Linked DNA regions of Homo sapiens: region 1 is reported to be linked to region 2. Evidence: microRNA targets listed by miRTarBase, many of them from high-throughput screens and not tested one by one. Region 2 holds a microRNA gene; the other region holds the end of a gene's coding sequence.
What was found. The annotated mature microRNA hsa-miR-6755-3p reads UGUUGUCAUGUUUUUUCCCUAG and lies in region 2 at 2,031-2,052, opposite strand. An mRNA with a match to its seed (bases 2 to 7 or 8) in the 3' UTR can be bound and repressed. Matches are read on the target gene's strand: a 7mer-m8 pairs with bases 2 to 8, a 7mer-A1 pairs with bases 2 to 7 and ends in A, and an 8mer does both.

Region 1: miRTarBase lists CBFA2T3 as a target of hsa-miR-6755-3p. Seed matches in the 3' UTR shown: 7mer-m8 at 1,030-1,036.

What each region holds. Positions count from the first base shown.
Region 1 is chr16:88,873,440-88,877,761 of GRCh38, reverse strand. It overlaps CBFA2T3 (CBFA2/RUNX1 partner transcriptional co-repressor 3), which reads left to right. Exons shown (of 12, transcript NM_005187.6): 12 at 487-2,904. The coding sequence ends at 786. Among named protein-coding and RNA genes, the nearest start is that of PABPN1L, 8.9 kb to the right of the region's middle. RefSeq lists a silencer at 3,118-3,270.
Region 2 is chr11:86,276,037-86,280,428 of GRCh38, reverse strand. MIR6755 (microRNA 6755) reads right to left here and starts at 2,096; the gene lies at 2,031-2,096. EED (embryonic ectoderm development) reads right to left here. Exons shown (of 12, transcript NM_003797.5): 10 at 3,291-3,449; 11 at 2,438-2,511; 12 at 1,619-2,030. The coding sequence ends at 1,904.

The DNA of each region.
Region 1 (4,322 bases), not on the chromosome of region 2:
AACTCACCCTACGGGAAGGGAGCAGAGCCCACCACAGGGTGGGGGCAGAGGTGGAGGGGGTGCAGCAGAGGCAGGGGTGGGGCAGAGGTGGGGAGGGGGACGGGTGGGTGTGGATGCAGCAGAGGCGGATGGTGAGATCTCAGCAGCCTCAATCCTGCCGGGGCCACGCCCTTTGGTTTTGCGGTTTTGGAGCCTGGTGAGCTCAGGAGGGCTTCCTGGAGAGGAGGCAGGGGTCGTTGTCCAGTTAGCACAGCGCAGACCTATCTGGGTGGGCTGGAGCGTGAGACACGGTAGTGGGATGCCGTCCCGCAAAATGGCCCAGTGAGTGGCTGTATCTGGAGCATGGCCCGAGGGCTGTGGGGCTTTGGAGTTTCTCTCTTCTCACCTGGTGATGACGTGGCTGGGTCTGAATGGCTTGGTTGAGGCGTGTGTTGGGGATTCGGGTGGCCAGACCCAGCCCTGACTGGCCCCTCTGCCCCCACCCAGAGCTGCTGGAACTGCGGGCGGAAAGCCAGTGAGACGTGCAGCGGCTGCAACGCGGCACGCTACTGCGGGTCCTTCTGCCAGCATCGGGACTGGGAGAAGCATCACCACGTGTGTGGCCAGAGCCTGCAGGGCCCCACAGCCGTGGTGGCCGACCCGGTGCCTGGACCGCCCGAAGCCGCCCACAGCCTGGGCCCCTCCCTGCCTGTGGGTGCTGCCAGCCCCAGCGAAGCCGGCTCTGCGGGGCCTTCTCGCCCCGGCTCCCCCAGCCCACCTGGCCCACTGGACACCGTGCCCCGCTGACCCCACTGGCCCCTGGCCTGCCGGACACAGCACCGTGCCAACCCCACCCAGCTCCAGGCCCACCGGATGCTGTGCCTGGCCTCCGATGCCTGGCCTGCCAGACACTGCGCCCCGCCTGACCTGGGGGAGCCGACCAATTAGTCACTGCTGCTACTGCCCCTCTCCGAAAGAAGACACAGAACCAACAAAACCGCATTCAGTGCACCTGCCTCAGCTACCTAATGATTCCGCGCGGAGACCTCCTGACAACGTCTCTTCAAGCATCCTCAGAAGCCTCGACTGAGCTTTAGACAGCAGAGCAGATGCCGCAGGCGCGGCGGCTCTGCCCACCTCTCTTTTCCTCTCTGTCTGTCTCTCCCCCTCTGTCTTCTCTATCCTCTCTCTCTCTATGACTATCACACACTTTCTCTTCAATGAAAAAATCGAATTGGTGGCTTATATTTTCAGCAAAGAATTTTGGGGGGTTTTGTGTGTTGGCAAAAGAGCTACTCAGAAATGGACAAAGAAAACGGGGGGGTTCTCCCCCTCCTGATTAAAAAGGGAGAAAGAAAACTGCGATTTTATAGCTGGAGATCTGAACCCAGCTGTGCCCCTCCCCCAGGGGCGTGAGGCTGATCAGCGAAGACGGGAGGAAAGATTTCGATTTCTGACTCAAGATGCATTTTTGGTTTCAGATTTTTTTTTCCTGTAATGTTAAACTCTTTGGCTTTAAGTAAAAATCCAAAAAGTTTTTTTAAAAAAGCAAAGGAAGCATACTTGTGAACTACCTTGCTAGCTAGCCAGCCAAGGATACCGGACACACCTCTGCTCCAAAGGAAATCCAAAAAAGCAAACACAAGAAATCAAAATCCAAAATTTGTTTGTCACTGCCAAAGTATTTTTTTCACTGTTTCACTTGCTCTTGGGTTTGTTTGGATGTGGGTCTTTTTCTCTTCTGTTCTGATTTTGTTTGTGGGTGTCGGGATATTTGGGTGCAGAGGGTTTGTGCCCAGTTAGAAGCGACTTTTGTTCTCTTCTGCGTAGGCGTTGGTGCGTCCGCCGCGTGTGCGTGGTCCGTGTGCCGTTGCTCCGGCCTGCGTCTCCATATGTGTAGGAAAGGACACGCCGTCTGTCCTCACGCCCCCTGTGACTTTTCATATTTCCGTTTTCCACTTGTGGAAAAAAAGTGCTAAAGTTTTCTTCCCAGAGAGAGCATAATTCCGAAACAAAACTGTGACAATCTTTTGGGTTGATTCTCGACTGCTTTTCGAGCATGCGGAGCCAGCAGGCCTCCCTGAAACACTGCTTCTCGGCCAGCCCGTCCTCCTCTACCTCTCTCCTCTCCGCGCCCTCCGACCTCTCTCGGCCCCCTCACCCCAGCTCCGACCTCTCTCAGCCCCATCGCCCCAACTCCAACCTCTCGGCCCCATCGCCCCACCGCAGCTACTCCCCTTTCTTCCAAACTTTTGCAGAAAAAACAAAAAAACTACAAACAAAAGCAGCCCTCTGCCTCCTCCCCAGGGAAGACCCTGACCGTGTACATAGCCCTGGTGCTCCTGCCCAGCCACCCCTCAGATGCGTTCGCCTCTGGCCCTGGGGTGTGTCTCGGTGACGTTTTCTATCAGACGTGCTCCCTCCCATCCTCCAGCCCTGCCCACCCTCCCTCCACTCCTCTCAACTGCCTCAGCGATTTCAAGAAGGAAATAAAGGGATAAAGAAATTCATGCTTGCACCGAGTACAAGGACAGACAGCAGGCACGGCCCGCAGCCTGGCATCTGTGCGTGTGGCGTGGCCCGTGGCTTGGCATCTGTGTGCGTGGTGTGGCCCGTGGCCTGGCATCTGTGTGCGTGGCGTGGCCCGTGGCCTGGCATCTGTGTGTGTGGCGTGGCCCGTGGCCTGGCATCTGTGCGCGTGGCGTGGCCCGTGGCCTGGCATCTGTGTGCGTGGCTATCAGGAGTTCTAGGAACTCAGTGCAATACGGGAGTGACCCAGCTACTGAACCAGCCACGAACAGCCCGCCAGAGGCCTGAAGCTGAGCGTGTACGTTAATGTGAATGTATATAGTCTTTGCAGAGGTCCAAATGATATTCATGATGGTAATAAACGAGATGTTTGCCAAATAAAAAACAGAAACCGCAGGAGTTTGCGAAGTGTAGGAAACAGATTTTCAAAGAAATCCGAACAGTGGCCCCGAGGGGAGGAGCGGTTTGCCTGCTGGTGGTTCTTTCACGGTGGTAAAAATTCATTCTTTGAGCATCATAAGGATGGATCCTGTCGGGTCACCACCGGTCAGGTACCGTCTGGAACCAAGTCTGACAACAGAAACCTCGTTCTGAAAGTCAAGATAGATCGAGTCTGTCCTCCAGACATTGCCCTGGCCCCGGCACCACCTCCATTCCTCAGTGACAGGCCCAGCAAGCTCCCCAAGGTTTGCTTTTGTGGGTTTCAGAGAAGCAAGGACCGGTCTGGGATTTGGGCTCTCGGTTAAGTGGCAGAAGCGCGCCTCTCCTCCTTCCAGGGCTGCGGTTCTCCAGCTCCGAACCCACACAGCGGCAGCAGCGGACACGCCCGTGCCCACGAAGGGGACTTGCCTCCCTCGGAGGTAGACGTCCTGGGACTCTTCTCATCTCTCTCCCCCACTGGGGCTCCATCTTGTCCCCACCCACACTCCAGTGCCCTTCCAGGTGGGCAGGGCAGTTGGCTGTGGTGATCAAAGGCTCTAGGGGACAGGAAATGGGTACAGTGCTGTGGGGTAAATTGAGTCAGGCCCTCCAAGGCTGTGCAGGTGAACCGGTGGTCTCTAGAGCACCGAGCCCCAGGGCAAGTGGACCCATGGGCAGCTTCCCTGGTTACTCAGGTCCCTGGGGTCAGGACTGTGGTGGGGAGCGTGGAGGAGACACGAGTTTACTTTGTGGGCAAAAGCCTCCTCTTTTTCCCTCCCCTCCCTGGATCCTTCTTTGGGTACACACAGGTGTACCAGGGACAGTGGCATGTGCACCAGCTGGCTGCATCGATCTGGCCAGCAGCCTCCAGGGGCCAGACCACAAGGCTGAGGGTGAGACAGGCCCTGTCACCTCAGATCTTGGGAAGGGGTCAGCCCTCGAGCCAAAGATGAATGCCATCTGCCCTGCGTAGCCCCCCACCATGCACCAAGCCACCCTCAGCACGAGTGCAAAACTGGCATGAGGACCTGGCCAGAGACCAGGCAGATGGAGCCCTGTGGCCGAGGGCCACAAGGAATCAGGACAGCTGGGAAAACTGAGGCCCGGAGACAGAAGAAGGGGATGTCCTGGGTGCAATGTGTCAGGGAACCCTGGGCGGGTGTTGGCCGAGTCACGTGAAGCAAGGCAGCTCCTGCCCAGGAAGGCTCTGGGGCCCCCTCCGATGCTTCAGAGGCCCGTCTTTCTGTAGCTCATATGCCCAGGCCCTGGTGGTCAAAGACCTGACAGCAAACCAGGTGGAACCCATAGCTCTGGGGAGGGGACGGGGACAGGCGGCATTCTTGTGTTAGGGGTGGTCCCCTTGGTGGCCATGAGTACCCATCCCCATGGTTCCG
Region 2 (4,392 bases):
CTTAGTATTTCAGGGAAAGGAGAGAGGGCAAAAATAGAGTATAAACATGTGGCTGATAACTGGCCTGTGAGTTCTGACTCCTGGATCTTTCATTATCTGCACTAACTTTAACACTCGATATTCTAGCCTGGTCAACATGATAAAACCCCGCCTCTACTAAAAATACAAAAATTAGCTGGGCATCGTGGCACACACCTGTAATCCAAGCTACCTGGGAGGGTGAGGCACGAGAATCACTTGAGCCTGGGAGACAGAGGTTGCAGTGAGACGTCTGAGACCGCACCACTGCACTCCAGACTGGGCAACAGAGTGAGACTGTCTCCAAAAAAATTAAAAAACAAACCTCAAGAATGGAGTAGTGAATAATACATTTCTACGGACCAAAAGGAAAGATGATATTCTCACCCAGTTAATCATGCAACAGGAAGGATTTCATTATGTGGTATTTTGCAACAAGAACCTAGGCAATCTCATTTTGCTAAAAGGATATGACAGTATTCCTTGTCTTTTGTGATGCTGTACGTAAGAATTTACTTGCTATAAAGGTTTACTTCTTGAAGTTCCTATTAAAATTTCTAAAAAACAATTGAAGCGTTCATTGGACCAAGACAGTAAAAGGCAGTAAGTTTTCCTGTTTATTCAGACTTAAGCATTATACTATTATCAGAGAAGTAAACTGTGCTTCAGAGATAGCTCAAAAAGGGGCAGTATCAAACACTGTACAAGATATCAAAACTAAACTTTAAAAATATACATATTTATAGAAACAAGTTCATGAATCTTTTTAAAAACCTGACAAAATTCAGTCTTTTGTATTTTTCTCTGGCTCACCTCATTTCACCTCCAACCTTAGCTTTATGATCATTCAGGCTTTCTTCACTCCTCTGCTTCAAGTTAACCCCTCCACATGTGATCTTGGTCTTCACTCTTTAGGGAATTTTTGCCCACAAATAAATGCAGTGTGCCTTATGTTGGAGACAAAATAACCAACTATTCCCAACCTTATGATCTCAATCTACTTAATCCCTCTTAGCCAGTAACATCCTTCTAGAAAAGGGGCAACAACTCACTACATGGACATACTTGCCATCTCTTTCATGATCCAACCCACTGCATTTAAACTTCTATATCCTCTCCTCCTTTGCCCTAATGATATCTCCTCTAAGGTTACCAATGGCCTAGTTCCAAATCTAATGGCAGTAATATTTTTTAAACTATAAAGAAAGGTTACAGTTAAACATTATCAGAGGTTCTAACTCTGTAGAATTTTAAATATTACTTATGAAACTATTACATAAGAAATCATTAAAAAATATAAAACCATAGGAACTATAATCTCCAATAATTATAAACACAGAATACATTTAGGGCTTATTATATGTCAAATACTGTTCTAACTGTCTCACACATAACGAATCATTTGATCCTCACAATAACCCCAAGGCAAGTATTATTATCCCTGTTTTATACACAAGGAACCAAGCATTGAGAAGTTGTTTATCCAAGGTCACGTAGTAGGAGAGCCAAGATTTGAATTCACTTTAGTTCTAGAGCCTATACTTAATCTCTGTATTACAAAACTTTCTCTGGTTAAGAGAACTACAAAAAACAACCATTATAAAAAGATAAGGCATAATTTTATTACTTTTAACTTTTTTTCACCACAATGAAAGTAACTAAACACACAGCTTTACAAAAATAAATTTTTATTAAAAGCAGTAGAGTCTGAGCAGGAAGACAGTACAAAGAATGTAAACAATGTAAACATCACTACATTCAGCTCAGCCTGATTGAATGCTGAAAGACAACTCTAAATGCTCTACGTGCCCTTACTAGCAAGATACATTAATTCTATTTTACACAGACAACAAACACACTCTAATTTTGATTAGGCAAAAGTATTTTATCGAAGTCGATCCCAGCGCCAAATACTGGCATCATCACAAACAGCTATAAGAATGCTGCTATCCCTGCTAAAACTGGTTTGTCGAATAGCAGCACCACATTTATGATGAGTCAGTGTTGTACATCTAGGGAAAAAACATGACAACAGGTTAAAGACCACACATAACGTTGTCAGTGTCTACCCTAAAACAGCGGATTAGAAAATAAGCAGATGTTCCAAGTCATACGAAAAGCACTTAAAACCAGAATATACTTCACTAAGAGCTCAGTCTCAAATTTTATAAAATTTAGATATATTTTAAGTTCAACAAGCACTACATAATTTGTATAAAAACAAGAAATGACTTGTCACCAAGGTACTTAGGAAAAACAAAAATTATTGGAATAAAAAAGAATAACTTTAACTCTGAAAACAGTAAATGTTAAAAATGACTTAAGGATGGCACTGCAAATATAAATGATCTTCTCTACATTGGCATACAAGTGTGGAGAAAAAGCCTGAAATTTTGAACAGAAATTTCTAAATACTTACTTGGCTTTATGAGGATCTTCTACTTCTAAATCCCAAACATAAAGTTTGCCAACTTGATTGCCCAATGCAAGCATCTGTATAAACATATTTTTAAAAACATCAAATTAATAAAATTACCAGGTTCTAAAGCATTGGAGGAATCCTCAGACAGCTTTCTTGTTTCAGAAAAAGCTCAGTTCCAGCCTCTGTGCTCTTGGCTATTTCTTTGGGTCTTATACTCCTGATTCGTAAATATGAATAAGAGCAATTAATACATCACAAGTGTCTTGAGCAAGTAAGAAGGCATTGTGCAAATTTATGAAGGGCCTTACAAATTTACATTGTTAGCATGGTACTTACTTTTTCTTCTGCCTTCAAGAAATACAGCAAATGCTGTGGAAAGCCTTCCAAACTTTTCTTACAGAAATAAATACCCAAGTAATTTGTTACCAGAAAATCCTAACAATAGATTTATTTAAATTTTTAGGTAACTAGTATTTTATCTGTCTTCTATCCTGATTTTTCTCTAGGAAACAGTTACATAGGTAGACTGACAATCTAATTACTAAAACATTAAGTCTTAGTAATGTTATGATAATGTTTATGTTATGGAACATAAACACCTAATTTCCACCATTGATACCTAACTGCCAACTTAATTTAAAGTAAGCACTGCAGATCATATGCAGAGCCACAAAAGTAGAATGAATAACACCAAAGTATTTGATGAATGACATCAAAGGGCAAAGTAATCAATACAAAACATCAGGGTAGATTTGTAAAGGAAAAAGAACATGGACACAACAGAAAAAGCTAGAATTACAATGGTCTTTCATAAGTCAGATCATTTCAAAATGTAAAAGTATGTTGATACCTTTTGCCAGAAATCCATAGAAAACCTCATGTACCAAATGTCACACTGGCTGTAATCAAATCGCCCAAGAATAGTCACATTAGATTCACTGGGTTTAATTTTATCTATATCATCTTCCATCTTGCCAGGTTTCCAGCACACAATGGCATTTTCACAAGACTAAAACAGAGAGAGAAATGAGAAAAAGAAATGTTAATGAGGAACTGAATCTTACAAAGTAAAAACAAGGCTTTTCTATTGTTTTGGAATTCACAGCTCTTAGAACCTGGTTAATCCATCTATCAAGTACAGTGATGTACATTCATTTATATTTACAGTCAATGACCATACTTAAGGACAAGAAATCTGATTATCAACAGAATTCGATAATACAAAAGAATCACATTGTCTGAAATATTCATTTTGGAAGTCAACATTTCTCTTTCAAGTTAAACCAAGTTCAGCTCTAGATACTCTGACACCCAGAGACTTTAAGTGTTTTATAGCACAGGTCAATTACAAACACACAGAATTAGAATACATGGCTTTTCAGAATCCGGCATTAATCTGGCTCTTGCTTACTTCACTAGTTTCATCTTTCCCCATGCAGTCTCCCATTTCGCTTCTAATCACAGGTGGTTTCCTTTACCTTATTAACTATTATTCCTTCATCCAGTATCTGTGCCACACAGTAGGTACTCAACAGGTATCTTAGGAAAGTTGATGAACTCACATAAATAGCCTTAGAATTCAGTTTATAAATAGGGCAATCGAAGGCAAGTAAAGCAGTTGTTTAACATCAAGACACTCATATGGGGATAGGATTGAAATAGGCTTCAAACTTATACTTTTCCTATCCTATAAAATCAAATTTGTATGCACATACCTAAGCAGTAAGTGGTAAAGAATACAATGAGAAAAAATTGCAAAACTGTGGGCACTATTCATATTACTGTCTAGGTCAGTGGTTTGCCCACGAAGGGACATTTGACAATGTGTCTGTGCTCTAATGGGTAGAGGCCAAAGATGCTACTAAATATCTTATAATGCACAGGAAACCCCCTACAAAAAAAAGAATTATCTGGCCTAAACTAAATAGCACCAGGATTCAGAAATCCTCATG